Linked DNA regions of Homo sapiens. The protein of the gene in region 2 purifies or fractionates together with the protein of the main gene of each other region. This does not show direct contact. Each region holds a gene or a part of one and is shown on either strand. Other genes may lie near its edges.

Region 1 (9,727 bases), on a different chromosome or scaffold from region 2:
TAAGAGGCGGAGGTTGCAATGAGGTGAGATCACTCCACTGCACTCCAGCCTGGGAGACAGAGTGAGACTCTGCCTCAAAAAAAAAAAAAAAAAGTTAACACACAAAATTCTGGTTGGGCACAGTGGCTCATGCCTGTAATCCTACCACTTTGTGACGCTGAGGCAGGTGGATCACCTGAGGTCAGGAGTTTGAAACCAGCCTAGCCAACATGGCAAAACCCCGTCTCTACTAAAAATACAAAAATTAGCCGGGTGTGGTGGCATGCACCTGTAGTCCCAGCTACTCGGGAGGTTGAAGCTGGAGAATTGCTTGAACCCGGGGGGCAGACGTTGCAGTCAGCCAAGATCGCGCCACTTCACTCGAGCCTGGGTGAAAGGGCGAAACTCCATCTCAAAACAACAACAACAACAACAAAAATTCAGTTATATTTCTATACACTAACAATGAACAACGTGAAAAGGAAATTAAGAAAACAACTCCATTTACAATAGGATACAAAAGAATAAAATACCTAGGAAAAAATTAACCCAGGAAGTAAAAAACTTGTCCACTGAAAATACAAACACTGGCTGAGCTTGGTAGCTCACTCCTGTAATCCCAGCACTTTGGGAGGCCGAGGTGGGCAGATCACCTGAGGTCGGGAGTTCGAGACCAGCCTGACTAACATGGAGAAACCCTAGTCTACTAAAAATACAAAATTAGCTGGGCATGGTGGTACATGCCTGTAATCCCAGCTACTCCGGAGGCTGAGGCAGGAGAATCACTTGAACCCAGGAGGCAGAGGTTGCAGTGAGCCGAGATTGAGCCATTGCACTCCAGCCTGGGCAACAAGAGCGAAACTCTGTCTCAAAATAATAATAATAATAATAGGGCTGGGCGCAGTGGCTCACACCTGTAATCCCAACACTTTGGGAGGCCAAGGTGAGTGGATCACCTGAAGTTAGGAGTTCGAGACCAGCCTGGCTAACATGATGAAACCCCATCTCTACTAAAAAATAATACAAAAAATTAGCCAGGCATGGTGGTGCACTCCTGTAATCCCAGCTACTCAGGAGGCTGAGGCAGGAGAATCACTTGAACCTAGGAGGCAAGGTTGCAGTGAGCCAAGATCGCGTCATTGCACTCCAGCCTGAGCAAGAAGAACAAAATTCTGTCTCAAATAATAATAATAATAATAAATAAAAAATAAAACACTGAGGAGGTCAAAGAAAATCCACATGGCAGCATGTCTGACTTCTGAGCCTCCAGTCTATAAGGCCTGTGCTGAAAGGATCTGCACTTACTTTTCTCCTCTTTACAGCCAAGGTCACCAGTGGAAACTCTCAAGGACAATACCTGTGTCTCCTCCAAGGCCCATCCCTCGTGCCTAACACAGTTCCTGGCAGAGACCAGGTACTCAGTGTGTGTTTTTGCTCTGGGCTGCAAAATAAAGGTTTTCTGATCACTCTTCAACTCAACAACCTTGGCACCCTACTGCCTGTGGAATAGTGGGACAAACACTTTATCCTTATTTGAAGCCCTGCCCAGTCTGTCCTGACATCCCAAGATTCAGAGCACTCTGCCCTATAGGGGCCTCCCTGGCTCAGCCTAAAAAGTTGAGTAATATACGGTAATTGATTTAGCAGTGGCAGTGTCTGCCCTTCCCACGGCCTCTCCTGTTCTAAAGAGTCCACAGATGAATTAATCCACAAATACTTATTAAGAGTATAGTGGCCTGATATTGGAATGTTCAAAGCCTTCTGCTTAAGAGTTTGTGTGCGGCCGGGCGCGGTGGCTCACACCTGTAATCCCAGCACTTTGGGAGGCCGAGGTGGGCGGATCAGGAGGTCAGGAGATCCGAGACCATCCTGGCTAACACGGTGAAACTCCGTCTCTGCTAAAAATACAAAAAATTAGCCGGGCGTGCTGCATGCGCTAGTAGTCCCAGCTACTCGGGGCTGAGGCAGGAGAATCGCTTGAACCTGGAAGGCAGAGGTTGCAGTGAGCCGAGATCGCGCCACTGCGCTCCAGCCTGGGCGACAGAGCGAGAATCCGCCTCAAAAAAAAAAAAAAAAAAAAAAAAAGAGATTGTGTGTGTTGGGGAGCAGGGCATGTGGACACAAGGTCTCCGCCCTAGGAGAAGTGCTGGAGAGTAGGACAAGTACCACTACTTCGGACGGGGAGGGCGATGCCTCCAATGGGGGGCTTCCCTGATTCCTGCAGATCATACGTTGGCCCCCAACTTCACACTGGCCAGAATCCCGGTTCTAGTCTTTTCCGTGCCACCAACCCCTGGGCCCTCTTTCTAGAAGGAAAGAAAACACCTTTGGCCTCTGCCCAGAGCTACAGACACCTGAAGTAGGAGCAGGCAGGAGATGCGTGGTGGATAAAGACCAGAGAGACTTGGGATCGAATTCCACTCTCACCCCCAGTTCAGTTTTCTTCAGCTTGCTGCTCCACAGGCAGGATGTGAAAATTTAGATGCCTCACCCCTCGCACCTCCAGCTTGCTGCTCCAAATAGGCAGGATGTGAAAATGTAGATGCTTCCCCCCCAACCTCTATAAAACAGGGCCGACGAGGATGGGATTCGAACCCACGCGTGCAAAGCACAATGGATTAGCAGTCCATCGCCTTAACCACTCGGCCACCTCGTCCTACGTGACAGGTTTGTCCACATTCACTTATCTCTCATCTACTCCGCACCTTCCAAGCACTACCACGTAAGTCGCAACGCAGACCTCTTCGGACACAGGGAAAGAAGAAGCCGCGGAAGGAAGGGAGCGTTTTGATTTCCTTTCTGCTGAGCCCGCGCCATCCTTTACCACGCTGCAGCCGAGCTCTGCCGCGGTTTCCCTCCGAGTCCGGCCGAGCGCGCCGCGCGTTCAGGGCGCGCCCGGTCCAGGGTGCGCGCGCCGGCGGGGAGGGAGAGGAGTGCGTCCCGGGAAGCCGGCGGGGCCCGGGCGGGCGGGCGTCTGCACGGCGCGCGGCCGAGCGGCGGGGCCGTGGCTCCTCCTCCCTCGTAGGGGGCGAGCCGGCGCGCCGGGGGCTGGGGGCGGTGGCGGGCGGCGGGCGGCGGGCGGCGGGCGGCGGGCGGGGCGGCGCTCGGGGCTCGGCTGGCCTCGGCTCGCCTCGGCTGCGCTCGGCAGGCTGCGGTAAATCCGGGCTTGCGGCCGCTGGCGTAGTCTGTGGCCGGGTGGTCGTTGCTGCGCGCCCCGAGCCCCGAGAGCCATGCAGATGTCCTACGCCATCCGGTGCGCCTTCTACCAGCTGCTGCTGGCCGCGCTCATGCTGGTGGCGATGCTGCAGCTGCTCTACCTGTCGCTGCTGTCCGGACTGCACGGGCAGGAGGAGCAAGACCAATATTTTGAGTTCTTTCCCCCGTCCCCACGGTCCGTGGACCAGGTCAAGGCGCAGCTCCGCACCGCGCTGGCCTCTGGAGGCGTCCTGGACGCTAGCGGCGATTACCGCGTCTACAGGGGCCTGCTGAAGACCACCATGGACCCCAACGATGTGATCCTGGCCACGCACGCCAGCGTGGACAACCTGCTGCACCTGTCGGGTCTGCTGGAGCGCTGGGAGGGCCCGCTGTCCGTGTCGGTGTTCGCGGCCACCAAGGAGGAGGCGCAGCTGGCCACGGTGCTGGCCTACGCGCTGAGCAGCCACTGCCCCGACATGCGCGCCAGGGTCGCCATGCACCTCGTGTGCCCCTCGCGTTACGAGGCAGCCGTGCCCGACCCCCGGGAGCCGGGGGAGTTTGCCCTGCTGCGGTCCTGCCAGGAGGTCTTTGACAAGCTAGCCAGGGTGGCCCAGCCCGGGATTAATTATGCGCTGGGCACCAATGTCTCCTACCCCAATAACCTGCTGAGGAATCTGGCTCGTGAGGGGGCCAACTATGCCCTGGTGATCGATGTGGACATGGTGCCCAGCGAGGGGCTGTGGAGAGGCCTGCGGGAAATGCTGGATCAGAGCAACCAGTGGGGAGGCACCGCGCTGGTGGTGCCTGCCTTCGAAATCCGAAGAGCCCGCCGCATGCCCATGAACAAAAACGAGCTGGTGCAGCTCTACCAGGTTGGCGAGGTGCGGCCCTTCTATTATGGGTTGTGCACCCCCTGCCAGGCACCCACCAACTATTCCCGCTGGGTCAACCTGCCGGAAGAGAGCTTGCTGCGGCCCGCCTACGTGGTACCTTGGCAGGACCCCTGGGAGCCATTCTACGTGGCAGGAGGCAAGGTGCCCACCTTCGACGAGCGCTTTCGGCAGTACGGCTTCAACCGAATCAGCCAGGTGCTCATAAGGGAGAGGGCAGGGGTAATGGGGCAGGAGGGGTGGTGGGATCAGGGAGTTATGAGGAGTGGCCCTGGATGGAAAGGAGGCAATGAAGCAGGAGGGATCATAGTTCAGGAGGTGGGTGGATGGTGTGGAAGATCCAGGATACTTCCAGAGGGGTGAGGACGCTGGACTGTGGCTTTAGGGAAGTCAGTCTCAGGCCTGTCAATGTCATCAAACTTTGCTAACCTGTCTTTCCTCCTGCAGGCCTGCGAGCTGCATGTGGCGGGGTTTGATTTTGAGGTCCTGAACGAAGGTTTCTTGGTTCATAAGGGCTTCAAAGAAGCGTTGAAGTTCCATCCCCAAAAGGAGGCTGAAAATCAGCACAATAAGATCCTATATCGCCAGTTCAAACAGGAGTTGAAGGCCAAGTACCCCAACTCTCCCCGACGCTGCTGAGCCCTTCCCTCCCCTAATCTGAGAAGTCAGCCTCTTGGCTCCTCAGGCCACCATTTAGGCCTGACTGGGGTAAGAAATGTCGCTCCACTTTACAGAGGTAGCTGTGGTGTTGAAACACTGGACTTGGATATGGGGTGCTGGGATCGATTCCTAGCTTTACCACTAACTAGCTGTGTGGCCTTGAGTAAATCCCGTTACCTCTCTGAGCCTCGGTTACCCTGTCTGTAAAAAGGGAGGTGAGAATACCTACCTCACGGAACTGTTGGGAGGCTCAGATGAGATGCTATATGTGAAAACATTCTGTAAGCTTCGTACAAATGTGAAGTATTAATATTATCGCAGTATTATTGTTGTTATTATTATTGTTATTATTAACAATCTTGGGTGGGTAGTAGGAGAGCAAAAAGTATGAATGGGATGGAGCTAAGAAGTCTGAATACTTAATGAAATGGACTTTTTGGAAAGAAATCAGATGAAGGCATAAAATTTAGTTCTTAGCTCTTGAACAGAAGCCTAAAATTCCTGGTTCTCTCAGGGCTTCGCCTTCAAGGGTTCTGGAGGAGGGAAGGGTCTGCAGGTTCCATGGGTGACAGCCTGAGATCTGTCCCTTCAACGGGCTGGGCTGGGTATGTGCCTACCGATGACAATGTGTAAATAAATGCGTGTTCACACCCACAGCTGGCTCCGTTACTCTCCTGAGCTGGGGGTGGGGGGATCGGGGCCGGCTTCTCCCCTTGCACGCCGTGGGGAGATGGCCGCGGACGAAGGGCACCGTCTGCAAAGCACTGAACCATCAGGGCCTTCCCTGCAGGCCGAAGGCCTGCGCGAATGTCGGCCAGTTACTATGGAGACCGGCCCGCGGTATCCCAGCATGCCTCGGGACCAAACTGTCCAACTGTGAGCATCCCCGACGGTCGCCTCCTGATGACGCACACGGAAGCACCGATAGGCTCTGCCTCCCGAAGAAAAGGGAGCCGCGCAGCGCCTACGGGAGTCCGGCGGCAGCAGCCGGTACCGGCAACCACGGGCAGCTCTCAGGGAATCTCCGTCGTGAGGCCAGAGGCTCCAGTCCCCGCGGTGCGTATCGTCATGCATGGCTTTTGGTTCGCCCTCTCCGGTTAGTCGAGCAGGGCCGGCACAACCTCCTCCTCCGAGGCCGAAGCAGAGATTTAACCGGCCTGACGCGTGCTGGGCTGCGGGCGAGCCAGTGATATTCCGGCCCGCTCCGGCGCATCTAGAAGGGAGCGGGAGGCCCCCTGGGCGCTGCGGAGAAGCTGGATTGACCTCTGCGAGAGTGGGGAGGGTCTGCCTTCCCTAGGGGCCTGCCCCGGAGGAGCTGCCATTCTGAAAAGATAAATTGCCTGTGTACAGCGCTTTACAGTGTGCTTTTCCATCCCTTACCACCTGTGAGCTCCTCAACACTCAGAGCAGGAATGGTTATCCGCTTTTTGCACCCGGGGTAAGGTGGGAAGGTTGTGACTTAACTCACTCATAATCAGAACCAGGGGGAGGAAAGAAAGGCTTCTGGAAGAGATAGACTTAAGCTGCATCTTACAAAGTGAATATACTAACAGTGAAGAGGCATTGCAAATGTTGGGAACTGAGGCTTGATAACGGGAAGATGAAGCTGGTTTAGAGAACCGAGCCTTTCAAGTCAGGTGCAGGTCATTAGTGAAATTGTTGAGGAATATGACTAAACACTCACCTAGGCCAGGCTTACTATACACAACTTGAACTGGTGTCAAGGAAAGCTTGCTACCATTACAGGGACCTGGGACTACCGAAAAGTAAAAACTAATGTCTGTCTCACAAAAAATTTTTTTGTTAAATTTGTATTTGCAAATCCTCCAGTCATCAAGTGAACCAGCACTGTGCTAGGTAAATAAGTTACATGTGCAGCCCCTGCCCTAGTGAGGCTCATAGACTGATTGCGGGGACAGATATGAGAACAGGCAAATAGATATAAACAAAGCTTCCTGGAGGGAGTGGTGTCTGCACTGTTCTAAAGGACTACAAAGCAGTGTCCAGAGAAGTTGGAAGAACACAATAAAATAGAAGCCTGCAGGAGGTTGAGAGATTATCTGCTGAGAGGACTGTTTTCTTCTTCTTAGGTGATCTCTTGGCAGTACTTGGCACTATCAGTGCAATTACTCCTTGGCAGTACTTGGCTTTCTTCTAAAACTCTTTCTCCACCACTTCGGGTTTTGCCTCCTCCTTTGTAGGGGTCTCCTCATCTGCCCCTTTGGTGACCCTGGGCGTCTTCTGATCGCACACATTGTGCCTTGCTGGTTGCACCTTCTCCTGTGGCATGAAGAACTTGCTGTATGCTGACGACCAAATCCCTGCAGCTCAGATTTCTCACTGAGACTTAGACCCATGTTCCCCCAGCTGCTTTCCTTCTCTTATTTCTGGGTCTTTGCTACTGACTCTACCTGGAATGTTCCCTCAATAAGTGCAGCTCACCCAGCTGGTCCATCTTTGTCTGGAAGCCTCCCTGCTGCATCGGGCTCCAGGTCCTGGTTATATACCCCTCCCTTATGCCCCTGGTCTTAACTCTCCTCCTATCATGGTTATAGTGTGCTCCTTTGCCCCTGTCTCCCAGGAACTTGTAAACTCCGTGAGGTCAAAGACATTCACACTTGGGCGCCTGCATACCATAGCGTCTGACGGTACCTAGCATATGTTAGATGTTCAATACATGTTAGATGAGTCAGTAAAAGAAGGAATGCTTACCAGTGTTGGATGTTGCCGAGCAGACAATTAAAATAAGCACTGAAAAATATTGGCATTAGCCACAAGGAAGTCATTGGTTAATGCTACGGGATCAGTTTCAGCTGAGATTGAGGACATCGAACAAGTGGGAGGTGAAAGTAGGAACAGCCAGTGTTCATGAGACCTTGAAAAGTGTAACTGTGAAGTGGCAAATGGAGCAGTTAGGTGGAATGGGTGAGGTTTTGTGTTTCTGTGTTTTGTTAATGCTAGGAAGTACCCAAGCACATCCAAAGTTTCATGGGAAGGAGGTTGCTAAGAGTTAGAAGCTGAAGACACAGAAAAGAGAGGGGAGCACTGATGACCTGCGGTCCAAGAGGAAGCAGAAGGAGATGGGATTTGACCCAGAGCACAATGAAAGACAAGGAGATTGTAACATTATCTGGAAGAGAAGCCGAGGACATTATAGGCAGAAGGAACAGCTGAGGCAGAGGGTGGATAGTGGAAGTGCAAGCACTAGCCATTATATGTTGGGATGAAGGAGCTGGACCGGTAGGTCAAGTCCAGTCTGGGAAAGACCTTGAAAGCCCCAGTTAGAAATTTAGGTCCAGTTTGGGTGTGGTGCGGGCGCCTGTAATCTCACTACTCAGGAGGCTGAGGCAGGAGAATCGCTTGAACCCAGGAGGAGGAGGTTGCAGTGAGCTGAGATCGTGCCACTGCACTCCAGCTTGTCAACAGAGCGAGACTCTGTCTCAAAAAATAATAAGAAGAAAAGAAATTTAGGTCCAGTTGCAAAGGCAGTGGAGAGTGCCCCCTGGGCCTTTCCTTTCTGTGGATCACAGCCTTGGCCAGTATTGCTAGGATTAGGATCACCAGTGACATCCAAGAGCAGGAGCAGTTCCACAGCTCCCAGCCTTCTGTGAGAGGTGCAGATGGCCATTTGCACCCTTGTCACCCAGTTTGTGCTCAAGGTGTGGCCAGGCCAGTTACTTCCCTGGCTTTCCCCATCTGGGATCGAGTTGTGTTCAGCATCCTGCTGCCTCTTTCCCCCTCTGAGCTGTGGGCAGCCATAAGTGATAGCTCCATTCCTTCTCCCAGAGTCCAGATGCCTGTCCAGCCTCCAAGCAAAGACACAGAAGAGATGGAAGCAGAGGGTGATTCTGCTGCTGAGATGAATGGGGAGGAGGAAGAGAGTGAGGAGGAGCGGAGCGGCAGCCAGACAGAGTCAGAAGAGGAGAGCTCCGGTGAGCCCCTACACACACAGACACACACACACACACACAGAGCCCCTACACACACACATGCACACACACAGCCCCTACACACAAGCATGCACGCACATGCACATACAGCGCCTACACACAAGCACATACACAGACCCTGCACACAAGCGCACACACGCACACACAGCCCCTACACACAAGCACGCACACACAGCCCCTACACACAAGCACGTATGCACACACACAGCCCCTTCACACAAGTACACGTGCACACAGCCCCTTCACACAAGCACGCACGCATATGCACACACAGCCCCTACACACAAGCACACACGCACACACACAGCCCCTTCACACAAGCATGTACGCGCACACACACACAGGCCCTACACACAGGCATGCATGCACACACACACATGCAGGACGCACATGCACACATGCGGGTACCCACCACTCCTCCCCAGAGCTAGCCCTTACTGGCCTCTTGTCCCAGAGATGGATGATGAGGACTATGAGCGACGCCGCAGCGAGTGTGTCAGTGAGATGCTGGACCTAGAGAAGCAGTTCTCGGAGCTAAAGGAGAAGTGAGCGTGGGGACACCTTGGGCTGGGTCTGCGAGGATCTGGGATGAGGAGGTGGTGGGCCTGGTACTGGGCAGGCGTGGTTGGTGCCCAGGAAGTGCGCGCCTAACACCGGGCTTGCTGTGGAATGGGTGCTGGGTATGTGTTTGCCCAAGAGCGATGGGTGAGCAAATGGGTGCACGGCTGCCTTTTTACCACGCAGGTTGTTCAGGGAACGACTGAGTCAGCTGCGGTTGCGGCTGGAGGAAGTGGGGGCTGAGAGAGCCCCTGAATACACGGAGCCCCTTGGGGGGCTGCAGCGGAGCCTCAAGATTCGCATTCAGGTGGCAGGTCTGTGGGTGGTTCTGTACCCTCTTCCCCTCCCAGAACCCGTGGCACCCTGTCCCCTTCCTCTCTCGTTCCTGCCCGGCCTTGCCCTTTGCTCTCAGCCCTCCTATGTGGGCACCGGGCTCCCCAGCCAAGCAGGGACCCTCCTCCCTTTCTCTGCAGGGATCTACAAGGGCTTCTG
Region 2 (2,522 bases):
TTACCTTAGATGTTTGCACCTAACTGTATATGAGCAAATGATGCTGGATTAATGTTCATCATAATCAGTATGGAAATGGCATTTTGACTAGGAAAATGTCCTCATTCTTAAGGGATGCAGGCTGAAGTCTTCAGCCATTTCATTGTATAGGCTCATGGATAAAGCATCAGTTATGCTAGTATCACTTGGTGAATCTAGGTAAAGGGTATACAGGTATCCATTGTACTATATTCTGTCACCTATTCTGGAGGTTTGGAAATTTGCAAAATAAGTATAAATAGATTACTGAGCCTGTACCACCTTCTAAAACCAGACAGCACCCACCCCCAGTTGAAATACTGATAGCTCTAAAAACTTAGTAAAACCTTTGTTAGGATTAACAGGAGAGTATATGAAATCAAAGCTTTTTTTGTTCTTGTAACAGTTTATTCATGGAGGACACACTGCTAAGATTTCAGATTTTAGCTGGAACCCCAATGAGCCTTGGGTCATTTGCTCAGTGTCTGAGGATAACATCATGCAGATATGGCAAATGGTGAGTTAAAATGTTTTTCTTGAATGACTGTCTTGTAAAGGAGAGATTTACTACTTACATAATGTAATAAAGTTATTTCGAATATGTAGGTGCATATTATGCCAAACATTTACAGAAACCGTTTAAAAGAACTTTTTCCATTTCAACAATACAATCTTTAGTCCCATATGGTGCTTCGTCCACTGTTTGCTATTTGTAGCACCTGTCAGGTCAGGAGAAATCTCTGCATCTGCACTGATTTTCATTGTTGTTGTGCTCTTCATACACTGGAGTCTTGGCGTCGCTACTCTGTCTCCAGTGTCTGTTCTGTGTGGTAGGCATGAGGGATACAGGAAGGAGAGGTCAAGGCATTCAAATGACAGCAAGTTCTCTGAGGATGAGCACTAAGTAGCTGACATTTCTAAGTTGTTGTTAACCGAGACTTCCATAACATCTGGGCTACCACTTCCTCTAAACGATGCTTGAAGTGCCTTTGGAAAACATCTCTTATGAACAGTGATTGAAATAAGTAGTGCATCGATGGGTGGCTAAGTATACATACGGAATTACACACTGGCAAAGAATTTTTCAAAATACTGGCTAGCCTACCATTTCCTTATTGAAGTTTTTAAGAGAGAAATGTAAAAATGAAACTATTAAGTTCTAAATAGATTAAATTGTTTTTACATGACCATGTGAAAACCATAGGGAGTTTTTACCTGTGAATTTATTTGGTTATCTCCAGGCTGAAAATATTTACAATGATGAAGAGTCAGATGTCACGACATCCGAACTGGAGGGACAAGGATCTTAAACCCAAAGTACGAGAAATGTTTCTGTTGAATGTAATGCTACATGAATGCTTGATTTATCAAGCGCCAAAAAGGCATTGTATAGTAGGAAATGTAAGTGGGGTGGCTTATGGCTTCTTTATCCTCTGATTCTAGCACTTTCAAGTGAGCTGTTGCGTACTGTATCATATTGTAGCTATTAGGGAAGAGAAGAATGTTGCTTAAGAAAGAACATCACCATTGATTTTAAATACAAGTAGCAGGGTATTGCCTTTGATTCAACTGTTTTAAGTCCTCATTTTCTCAAACTAAGTGCTTGCTGTTCCCAAATATGCAAGAATAACTTTTACACTTTTTCCTTCCAACACTTCTTGATTGGCTTTGCAGAAATAAAGTTTTAAAATAAAACTTGTGTTTTTTTAAAAGCTTAGTGGGGGGGGGCGGGGGAGTCTACTTTTTGAGTAGAAATGGGTAAAATGGTACCTTTGGACTCCTACAGTTAAGGTCACATGGATAATGAAAGAATACACAGAAGCTGTTAAGTTTATCATACATATTTACTTAATCTATACAGAATCAAGTAGATAAAATCAGATTCACATTAGTGAAAAATCTCTACAAAATGTCTTTGAAAAGCAAAACGAGACTGCCTCTTAACAATTCGTATCCTCATGAAAGACGTGGGCTGTAAAAATAAAGCAGTGTGTTTAGCACAAACTAGAAGATATCTGCATCATTTTTTTCACAGTTATTTCCATCTACAGTCTGAAAGAGGTAGATTTTTCTGCAACACCTGAGAATTGAATTGTGATAACCAGGTGTAATAAAGGCAGTTGCATACATAACTGAAAAATACTGGTCTCAAGACCAAGAAATGTACTCCTAACAAGTCTGAGGATGAAATGGTCCATATTACCCAAGACCCAAGTTTTCTCTACACCTTGGAGTCCACCGCCAATATAAATAATACACATCACGATTCCATGATGGTGCAACAATTGCAATTTAAGTGAATTCAACATTTAAACCTTTTCTGGGCCAGCCTAGTAGCATTACAGTGTTCTAGAATATGGTAGATACGGGGTGCGCTACAAAGCCACAACACTGGGCTGGTGAGGTGATCACTGTAGGAAGATGTCCTTCTCAGGGGGTCCCATTTGTTTTTATTCACAGGGTAATGGGAGGAAGGGTTCTGAAAGGACAACAAATGCATCCCA
Region 3 (8,894 bases), on a different chromosome or scaffold from region 2:
GTTATTTTAAGTAGAATGTCATATTCCTTTCTTAGGGTACAAAATGCCCATCATCTGTCCTTCCTAGATACTATCTCAAACCACTTAACAAATTAACTTCATGTCTAGGATGTCTAGGTACTAATCTTTTGATCTTTTTTAAGGACTATTGTACCTAAATATGATACTGGGGAATGTTGCAAAATAGCTTTTCATATAGATTTGAGTTAGTAATATGCAACGTAATATATTTTTGCTTGGAGCTTAGTTTCCCCTCCCCCTCAAATTCTTGGCACAAATGTTATGATTTGTTTTATTTCAGAAATTTCTACAGGGAGGTATTCAGAGGTACATGATTAAAGATTTTTATTGTTATTTTTGGTAAGATTTTTATTGTAAAATTACATTGGTAATATAAAAACCTGTATAATATAATAATATTTCCTCTTACAGACTCTTGTTCATCTGATAGTGAAACAGAAGATGCTTTAGAAAAGAATTTAATAAATGAAGAACTTTCTCTTAAAGATGAACTAGAAAAAAATGAAAATTTGAATGATGATAAGCTAGATGAAGAAAATCCAAAGATTTCTGCACATATATTAAAAGAAAATGATAGGACTCAAATGCAGCCTTTAGAAACCCTGAAGTTAGAAGTTGGAGAGAATGAACAAATAGTACAGATTTTTGGGAACAAAATGGAAAAAACAGAAGAAGTTAAGAAAGAAGCCGAAAAATCTCCAAAAGGAAAGGGAAGACGAAGCAAGACAAAAGATCTTTCTTTAGAAATTATAAAGATTTCATCATTTGGCCAGAATGAAGCAGGAAGTGAACCTCATATAGAAGCTCATAGTCTTGAATTGTCTTCATTAGACAATAAAAACTTTTCTTCTGCTACAGAAGATGAAATTGACCAATGTGTGAAAGAAAAGAAGTTGAAACGGAAAATACTAGGACAATCATCGCCAGAGAAAAAAATAAGAATTGAGAATGGAATGGAAATGACAAATACTGTATCTCAAGAAAGGACCAGTGATTGTATTGGATCTGAGGGAATGAAAAACTTAAATTTTGAACAGCACTTTGAAAGAGAAAATGAAGGAATGCCATCATTGATAGCAGAGTCAAACCAATGCATCCAACAACTGACTAGTGAAAGATTTGATAGTCCAGCTGAAGAAACTGTAAATATTCCACTAAAAGAAGATGAGGATGCAATGCCTCTGATCGGGCCTGAAACCTTGGTTTGCCATGAAGTAGATTTGGATGATTTGGATGAAAAGGATAAGACCAGCATTGAGGATGTAGCAGTTGAAAGCTCTGAGTCTAACTCTCTTGTTTCTATTCCACCTGCCCTACCTCCTGTAGTCCAACATAACTTTTCAGTAGCTTCACCACTTACTCTTAGTCAAGATGAGTCTCGAAGCGTAAAAAGTGAGAGTGATATAACGATTGAAGTTGATAGTATTGCTGAAGAATCTCAAGAAGGTCTCTGTGAGAGGGAATCGGCAAATGGATTTGAAACTAATGTTGCCTCTGGTACCTGTAGTATAATTGTACAAGAGAGAGAGAGCAGAGAGAAGGGTAAGGACTTTCTAGGGAAAAGTAAGTGTTTATATGAAACCAAAAATCAAAACTGTTGAGTTTCAGGTACTGTTGATCTGTAAAGTACTTTCTTTTTCTTTTCTCTCTTCTTTTCTTATTAAAAAGAAAGAAATGTCAGTGTAGTCTGTTGAATAATATACTTGCTCTTTTTTTTTTTTTTTTTTTTTTCAACATTCTCTCTTTCCCCTTATTTCAGGTCAGAAGAGGCCAAGTGATGGAAATAGTGGATTAATGGCAAAAAAGCAAAAGCGTACCCCAAAGCGAACAAGTGCTGCAGCCAAAAATGAAAAGAATGGAACAGGTTGGTGTCTTTCAATGCTAGCTTTTGTATAGTGTTAGTATTTTTAGCAGTTTGTTGGCTTGTTTTAAACATAAATGGAGCAATACTATATTGTTTTATAACTGCATTTTCATTTAACAGTATTATACTAGATATTTTGCCATTTTTATTCTTAGGAACTCTAGCTCATTCTTTTTAACAACTTTAGGAAAGTATTCAATAGTTTATCATTTTTAACCATTTCCCCGTTGGTGAGCATTTAGGTTTTTTTGTTTTTTTGTTGTTTTTATATTGTTATAAACTTTGTGCATTTGTGCACTTATTTCTGTAGGATACCAAGAAATGTAATTGTTAGGTCTGTTGCATTTTGATATTTAAGAATTTTATTTATAATCTGAGTCAATCTTTTTTATTATTTATAGGACAAAGCAGTGATAGTGAAGATCTTCCTGTCCTAGACAATTCAAGTAAATGTACCCCAGTAAAGCATCTTAATGTATCTAAGCCACAGAAACTTGCACGATCTCCTGCAAGAATATCCCCGCACATCAAAGATGGAGAGAAAGATAAACACAGAGAAAAACATCCGAATTCATCCCCTAGGACATATAAATGGAGCTTTCAGCTCAGTAAGAAGCTTATAGAAAACTTGATAGATGAATACTGTAAAGTGGAATAGATCTTAAAATATCAACTTGGATTAATGTTAATAAAATAAGGAATAATGATTAACTATTTAGATATTCCAAATATTGCCTTAGCAAGAATCACCACATGTTGTCTTAAGTATAAATCTGTGTCTTTTCATAAAACTGACTTGATAAATATTGACTTACAGGAAGGTCTCCATTAAGAAGCCATGTATGATTTATATAAATCAGTGAAATTGAAGTGCCCTTTGTAGCACTAACAATTAGAAATAGCCAGTAGTTATTTCTATTATGTAACTAGTAGTAGTGAAGAAAATGTCAATACAGGGAAACTATTCTGATAACTATAATTATAGATAGGTCAGGGTTAGTTTGTGTTGATGTTTTCTTATGTTTTTCTGATCATTTAAGTAATAAATGTTTAGTATAGAAAATTTGGGATCTAAAAATAATTCTTAATCATGAATTTAATTCACGACTTCCTTGTTTTCAGTCTTATTCAGCTTACTGTAGGAGATTTTAATAAACTAAAGCTTTTGTTGATTTATGAGTTAGACGTTTGATAGAATTGTCATCATTTTTCTCACAGAATTATTTTAAAATCCAAATTAACTTCTTTCCCCCCTTTTAGATGAATTAGATAATATGAACAGTACAGAGAGAATCTCATTTCTCCAAGAAAAACTACAGGAAATCAGAAAATATTATATGTCTTTGAAGTCTGAAGTTGCAACCATAGACAGGAGGAGAAAAAGATTAAAAAAGAAAGACAGGGAAGGTAATTTTATTATGATTTTTCTCCCCTTATATTTCAAAACTATATCCTATCATTTTAGAAGATTTAAATTTGATACTCTTTGAATATAGTACACATTCATTAATTGCTGTTTTTAAATTCCTAGTGTTTTCTATTGTTGAAATGAGTAGGTCAGCAACTGAGTTAATCAGAATGACACCCTTAAAAGGGAGTATGAACTGTTTTCCAAAATGGGTGATTGTACTAAATGTGATGGATTCTCAGGTAGAGCATAGTCCTTCTGAAATTCACTCTTTGCTCAAACATTTATTGGCATCTATTAACAGGCACTGTATTTGTTATGGGGTTCACCAAAATGAATGAGACATAAGGCTTATTCTCAAGGAGATTATCTTGTTGGGATTATAAATCATTTCCTAAGCAACTAAAATATAAGATAGTGCAGCTCAGCAACTTTAAAGAGCACATGCCATGTGCCAGGCACTCTGCCAGGTGGCGGAAGTACAGAAATGAGTTAGATACAGACTTTCTTCTCAAAGATCTTAACATCTAGTGGAACAGTGTGTACCCTGAGAATGATATTAACGAGTACAAGAGTTAGTGGAAGGAGAGGTTACTTTGGAGTAGTCAGAGAGAGGGAGTAGTGTCTGAGCTAGCCCTTCGGGGGTTGTAGGATTGACTTCCAGTTAAACATGAACATGTCCATCTACAGTCCATCCCTAAGCCCTGCTAAAATAACAGTAAAGGAAATTAAAAGCCCTAAACTCAAAAGGACAAGAGAATGACCACAACAGACAAGAAATGTCAACAGTATATCTTTTGGAAGCTGCATAACAGATGGACTACTGTAACTGTCCCAGCAGATGAGATAATGCTGAAACTAAGCTTGCTTGTCCTTGTAGTGGGACAAAACAACAAGAAGCAAGCCAATTAATACCATGTAACCCCAGAAAAGCTTTCAGAAGGGATATGGGACGATGCTGAAAAATGGGATTGGTTGAAAATGGAAAGAGAAATTGGATCTCTTCTTCCCATCTGTGAAGCAAGTCTACCTCACCCCCAACTCAAGCAGAAAATAGATTAACTTAAAAGAGAATGAGGAAATCAGTAGGCCTGTAGACTTGGGGGCACCAGCCACAGCTGAGGGTAATGATTAAGTGCTAAACCAAAATAATGGATGGAGTGAAAGTTTGCATACTGAATAGTTAGATTGCTGTCCCTCTTCTAACTCAAGGCCTAATCCTCTTGGCTTCCTGAAAGCTGGCAGCCAAGCTTATGCTTATTCCTGGGAGGAGATTGGAAGATTCTTCTAAAGAAAATGACCAGCCCAAGAAAAATTACCTACTATTTGGATGTTCCTGAAACAAAAATCAAGATCCTTGCCAATCACTACATGTGCATTTTCTGTATTTAAAAGCCCTGATGCTCATATACAGCTTTCAGTCAGCTTTTTAATGTTAAATATGGAAGCCACATGACCAGACATTTGAGGAAAGCCCCTACATAAAGGCAGAAGCCAAAGTAGAAAAAGGAGAATAAAAAGGAACTGGAAGAAAAAAAACAGATAATGTACCATATTAAAAAAAAAATAGGACAAAACTATTCTTAATAGTTAATCCAAGTTGAGTATCCTTTATTTGAAATGCTTGGGTCTAGAAGTGTTTGGGTTTTTTATTTTTTTCAGATTTTGGAATATTTGTACATAATGAAATATCTTGGTGATGGGACCCAAGTCTAAACACAAAATTCATTTATGTTTCATAGACACTTTATACACATAGCCTGAAGGTAATTTTATATAAATAATTTTGTGCATGAAACAAAGTTTGTGGTAAGTGCTTATGTGTGGAATTTTCCACTTGTGGCACCACGTTGGTGCTCAAAAGTTTCAGATTTTGGATTTTTGGATTAGGGATGTTCAATTTGTATCCAGAGATAAAGGGAAAGAGATTGCCACCTTGAAACAAAAGCATAATAACTATTTTAAAAATTCAGAGAACAAGAAGGATATCTTTAAAATATGATAGCAGGAATTTAAAAAAAATAATAAGGCAGTGAAGCTGAAGAAATTCCACTAGAGGGTCAAAAAGACAATAGGAGAGAAGAAATAAGAGAAATATGGAATCTGGCGAGGAGATCCAACTTCTGAATCATAGGATTTCTAGAAGGAGAGTTGAATAAACAAGAGGAAGTTGTCATCAAAGATATTTTTAAAATTCTAGAACTGAAGGATATGAGTTAGAAAAGGACTCACTGTGCCCTCTATAAATAATGGGGGTGAAAATCACCAAAGCATATGAAATTTCAGAATCCTGTGGATAAAGAGTAGATTCTAGGCCTGGCACAGCGGCTCACGCCTGTAATCCCAGCATTTTGGGAGGCAGAGGCAGGCAGATCACTGGAGGCCAGGAGTTTAAGACCAACCTGGCCAACATGACAAAACCCTGTCTCTACTAAAACTACAAAAGTCAGCTGCGCATGGTGGCAGATGCCTGTAATCCCAGCCACTCAGGAGGCTGAGGCTTGAGGATCACTTGAACCCGGAAGTGAGCACCGAGATCGCGCCAGTGCACTCCAGCCTGGGTGACAGAGTGAGAGTCTGTCTCAAAAAAAAAAAAAAAAAAGTAGATTCTAAAAATTTACCATATAAAGATACATATATAAAAAGAAATGGATCTCAGAACAGCATCAAGAGTCTTACATCCGATTTCTCAATGGTAGTACTAGAAACTAGAAGCCAAGCTAAGAAGACATGGGACTGGCAAACAAGGAATCCTACATAGGAAAATAGTGAAGGAATATCTGAAGGTGATGGTGAATGGAAGCTCTAGGATGACCACTGCATAGCAGACCTAGAAAGCAACTATTCCAGGAGTAGGATGGAACAGGAGGGGAAAGCTCCAGAAGGGATGTCTCTTAAAAACCAAATAAAAGGTAAATTACCTGATAGGGTTGATCATGTTGAGAGAAGTTTTCTGCCTCTAGTAGAGATTTAGTGGATGACTTTGTGGTAGAGTGACGTGTCATGTGTGGCCTTGACCATTGTGCTCCAAGTCCAGCAGTTTTTAATTCCTAGAAATAGGAACAGGATGGAGCAAATGGAAAGAGATCAGACTTCTCATGTTCATCCTTTTCTTTTAAAAACTGTAAATAGCAAGAAGTCTTTACAGAACTTTTGAATATCAAAAGAAGAAAAGAACAAATTAGCAAATTAAAATTTCTTCAAAGAACCCACCACTTGCTCTGGGGTCAGTTTCCTAAAGGTGACATACATTTCAGACAATTAAAAAGATTTTCTTTTTGTTGAGACAGAGTTTCACTCTTGTTGCCCAGGCTGGAGTGCAATGGCACAGTCTTGGCTCACTGCAGCCTCCGCCTCCCGGGTTCAAGCCATTTTCCTGCCTCAGCCTCCCGGGTAGCTGGGATTACAGGTGCCCGCCACCATGCCTGGCTAATTTTTGTATTTTTAGTAGAGATAGGGTTTCACCATGTTGACCAGGCTGGTCTCCAACTCCTGATCCCAAGTAATCTGCCCACCTCGTCCTCCCAAAGTGCTGGAATTACAGGCATGAGCCACAGCGCCCAGCCAAAAAGATTTTTTTATTACCGTCTTTTTTGTTGTTGGGGGGTACAGGCTCTGGCACCCAGACTGGAGTGCAGTGGCATGATCACGGCTTACTGCAGCCTCAGACTCTTGGGCTCAAGCGACTCCCACCTCAGCCTCCCGAGTAGCTGGTACCACAGTGCCTGCCACCACACCCAGCTAATTTTTTAGTTTTTTTTGTAGAGGCATATTCTCACTATGTGGCTCAGGCTGGTCTGGAACCCCTGTTCTAAAGCAATCCTTTTGCTTTGGCCTCCCAAAGTGCTGAGATTATAGGCATGAGCCAACATGCCCAGCTTATTATAGTCTTTTCCCCATTTTTATTTGCTTATGTTTTTATAATGAGTTATTAAATTGAGATTTGAGTGATTTGTAGCATACATGTAAGAATTTGTTGCCTGGGCATGGGGCTCACGCTTATAATTCCAGCACTTTGGGAGGCTGGAGCAGGAAGATCACTTGAGTCCAGGTGTTTGAGACCAGCCTGGGCAACGTAGTGAAATCCCATCTCTACAAAAAATTTAAAAATTAGCTGGGTACAGTGGCATGTCTTAGCTACTTGGAAGGCTGAGGCAGGAGGGTCGCTTGAGCCCCAGAGGTTGTCATGATACTTGAATAAACAAAAATTAAAATTTTAAATAAAATAGGAACAATCAGGCAAAGAAAGGCAGAAGACAAGAGTATTGCAAGGAAAGAGAAGATAAAAGCAAAGAACTTAAAAAGTGGCAAAACACCTAATGCTCAGAGTACCGATCCCTAATCTGTGTTATGTCCTCCTGGAGAAAATTATGTTAAAACCATTTGAGGACTTTTTGCTTATCACACATCATTACTTTGATCCTGATCTCCATGATTCTGATACCTGTCAGAGGAAATCCTCTGAGTTAAATTAATTCTCTTACGGTCCTATGACCCATAGATAAAGCAGAAATTCCATATGGTTCCATGTTTATCTCAGGTTGACCTTGTTTCTGATTGAGCCAAGTTCCTTCATGGGATCTCCCAACTAGAGGTTTAAGAGTTTTTGTCTCTTTAATCTTTACATTTTATGATGTATTTTTAAGTGTTGAGTAGTGCTTAACTGACCAAAGACTAACTCCACTTAATTGAGCCAAACAAAATTTTTGCTGACAATTTGTTACTCCTTCATGTGACATATAAGAGGCCTGTGATTAAGGTGAATAATGTTAAGAATTTTATTTCTAATTTGCTGTTAGCTGGGTATCTTTGTGTAACAGTTTTTGGATCTAACATAGTTGTTTTGATTCCACAGTGTCTCATGCGGGAGCCTCCATGTCATCTGCTTCATCAGACACTGGAATGAGTCCCTCATCATCATCTCCCCCACAAAATGTACTTGCTGTAGAATGCAGGTGATAAACATTTTCTCTACCTTCCCAGCAGTTTGCTGCCATGGACATAAATCCCCAAACCCTGAATTACAACCACAGAAAGCACTCAACTGGTTTGACATTGCTAAGTATATCCTGTATACTTTTCCAGGCTGGATTGTATCTATTCCCCTCTCTCTTCTTTTTTCTTGTTGCAAAAAATAAGCTGATTAATAAGTGAAGGTTAAGCAGCCTGCCATATTTGTCATAATTTTTCCTCTTTACTTTTGTTTTTCGTTTGTTGTGATATAGAACAAAGGGCACTTAGCAAATTTGAATTTGTATAATAAAGCTTTCAGGTGTTACAGAAATCGTAGACAAGCAAGTGCACATGATAAACATCAAAATATTACCCAGCTGAATAGTTACTGCTGCACTTTCACTAAGATGTATTTGAACACTTGGTGAGTAGGGGGTTTATGTTGTGTTTTTTTTCATTATCGTTTTTTTTATTTTTGTGGAAGCACTTGCTATTTAGAACTGCCAAAGTATATGTTCAGCAGTGTGCCCAGGATTGAAGGTGTAAATGGGACAAAATAAATTGTGAAAGGAAGTGTAGTTGACTGAAAACTACAGTTGTAATAAGTCTTCCACTTTTTATAGGATTTTTGAGCACAAAATTATGCAA

The links. Proteins that work in one complex are often made in the same cells at the same time.
Region 1: the proteins of RBBP7 (region 2) and BRMS1 purify together in Homo sapiens (affinity purification with mass spectrometry; 5 studies listed by BioGRID and IntAct, with this or other methods). This does not show direct contact.
Region 3: the proteins of RBBP7 (region 2) and ARID4A purify together in Homo sapiens (affinity purification with mass spectrometry; 6 studies listed by BioGRID and IntAct, with this or other methods). This does not show direct contact.

What each region holds. Positions count from the first base shown.
Region 1 is NC_000011.10:66,341,028-66,350,754, reverse strand, and holds the start of BRMS1 (breast cancer metastasis-suppressor 1), read left to right. Parts: upstream 1-5,650; 5' UTR 5,651-5,783; intron 5,784-8,513; 5' UTR 8,514-8,520; coding exon 8,521-8,659; intron 8,660-9,131; coding exon 9,132-9,222; intron 9,223-9,421; coding exon 9,422-9,549; intron 9,550-9,708; coding exon 9,709-9,727. Other genes in the region: B4GAT1 (beta-1,4-glucuronyltransferase 1), read left to right, coding at 3,210-4,265, 4,515-4,706. UniProt on the Homo sapiens protein: Transcriptional repressor. Down-regulates transcription activation by NF-kappa-B by promoting the deacetylation of RELA at 'Lys-310'. Promotes HDAC1 binding to promoter regions.
Region 2 is NC_000023.11:16,843,841-16,846,362, reverse strand, and holds the end of RBBP7 (histone-binding protein RBBP7), read left to right. Parts: intron 1-424; coding exon 425-535; intron 536-1,259; coding exon 1,260-1,328; 3' UTR 1,329-2,022; downstream 2,023-2,522. UniProt on the Homo sapiens protein: Core histone-binding subunit that may target chromatin remodeling factors, histone acetyltransferases and histone deacetylases to their histone substrates in a manner that is regulated by nucleosomal DNA.
Region 3 is NC_000014.9:58,363,738-58,372,631, forward strand, and holds part of ARID4A (AT-rich interactive domain-containing protein 4A), read left to right. Parts: intron 1-432; coding exon 433-1,563; intron 1,564-1,780; coding exon 1,781-1,885; intron 1,886-2,286; coding exon 2,287-2,493; intron 2,494-3,145; coding exon 3,146-3,292; intron 3,293-6,285; exon of another isoform or gene 6,286-6,343; intron 6,344-8,148; coding exon 8,149-8,252; 3' UTR 8,253-8,894.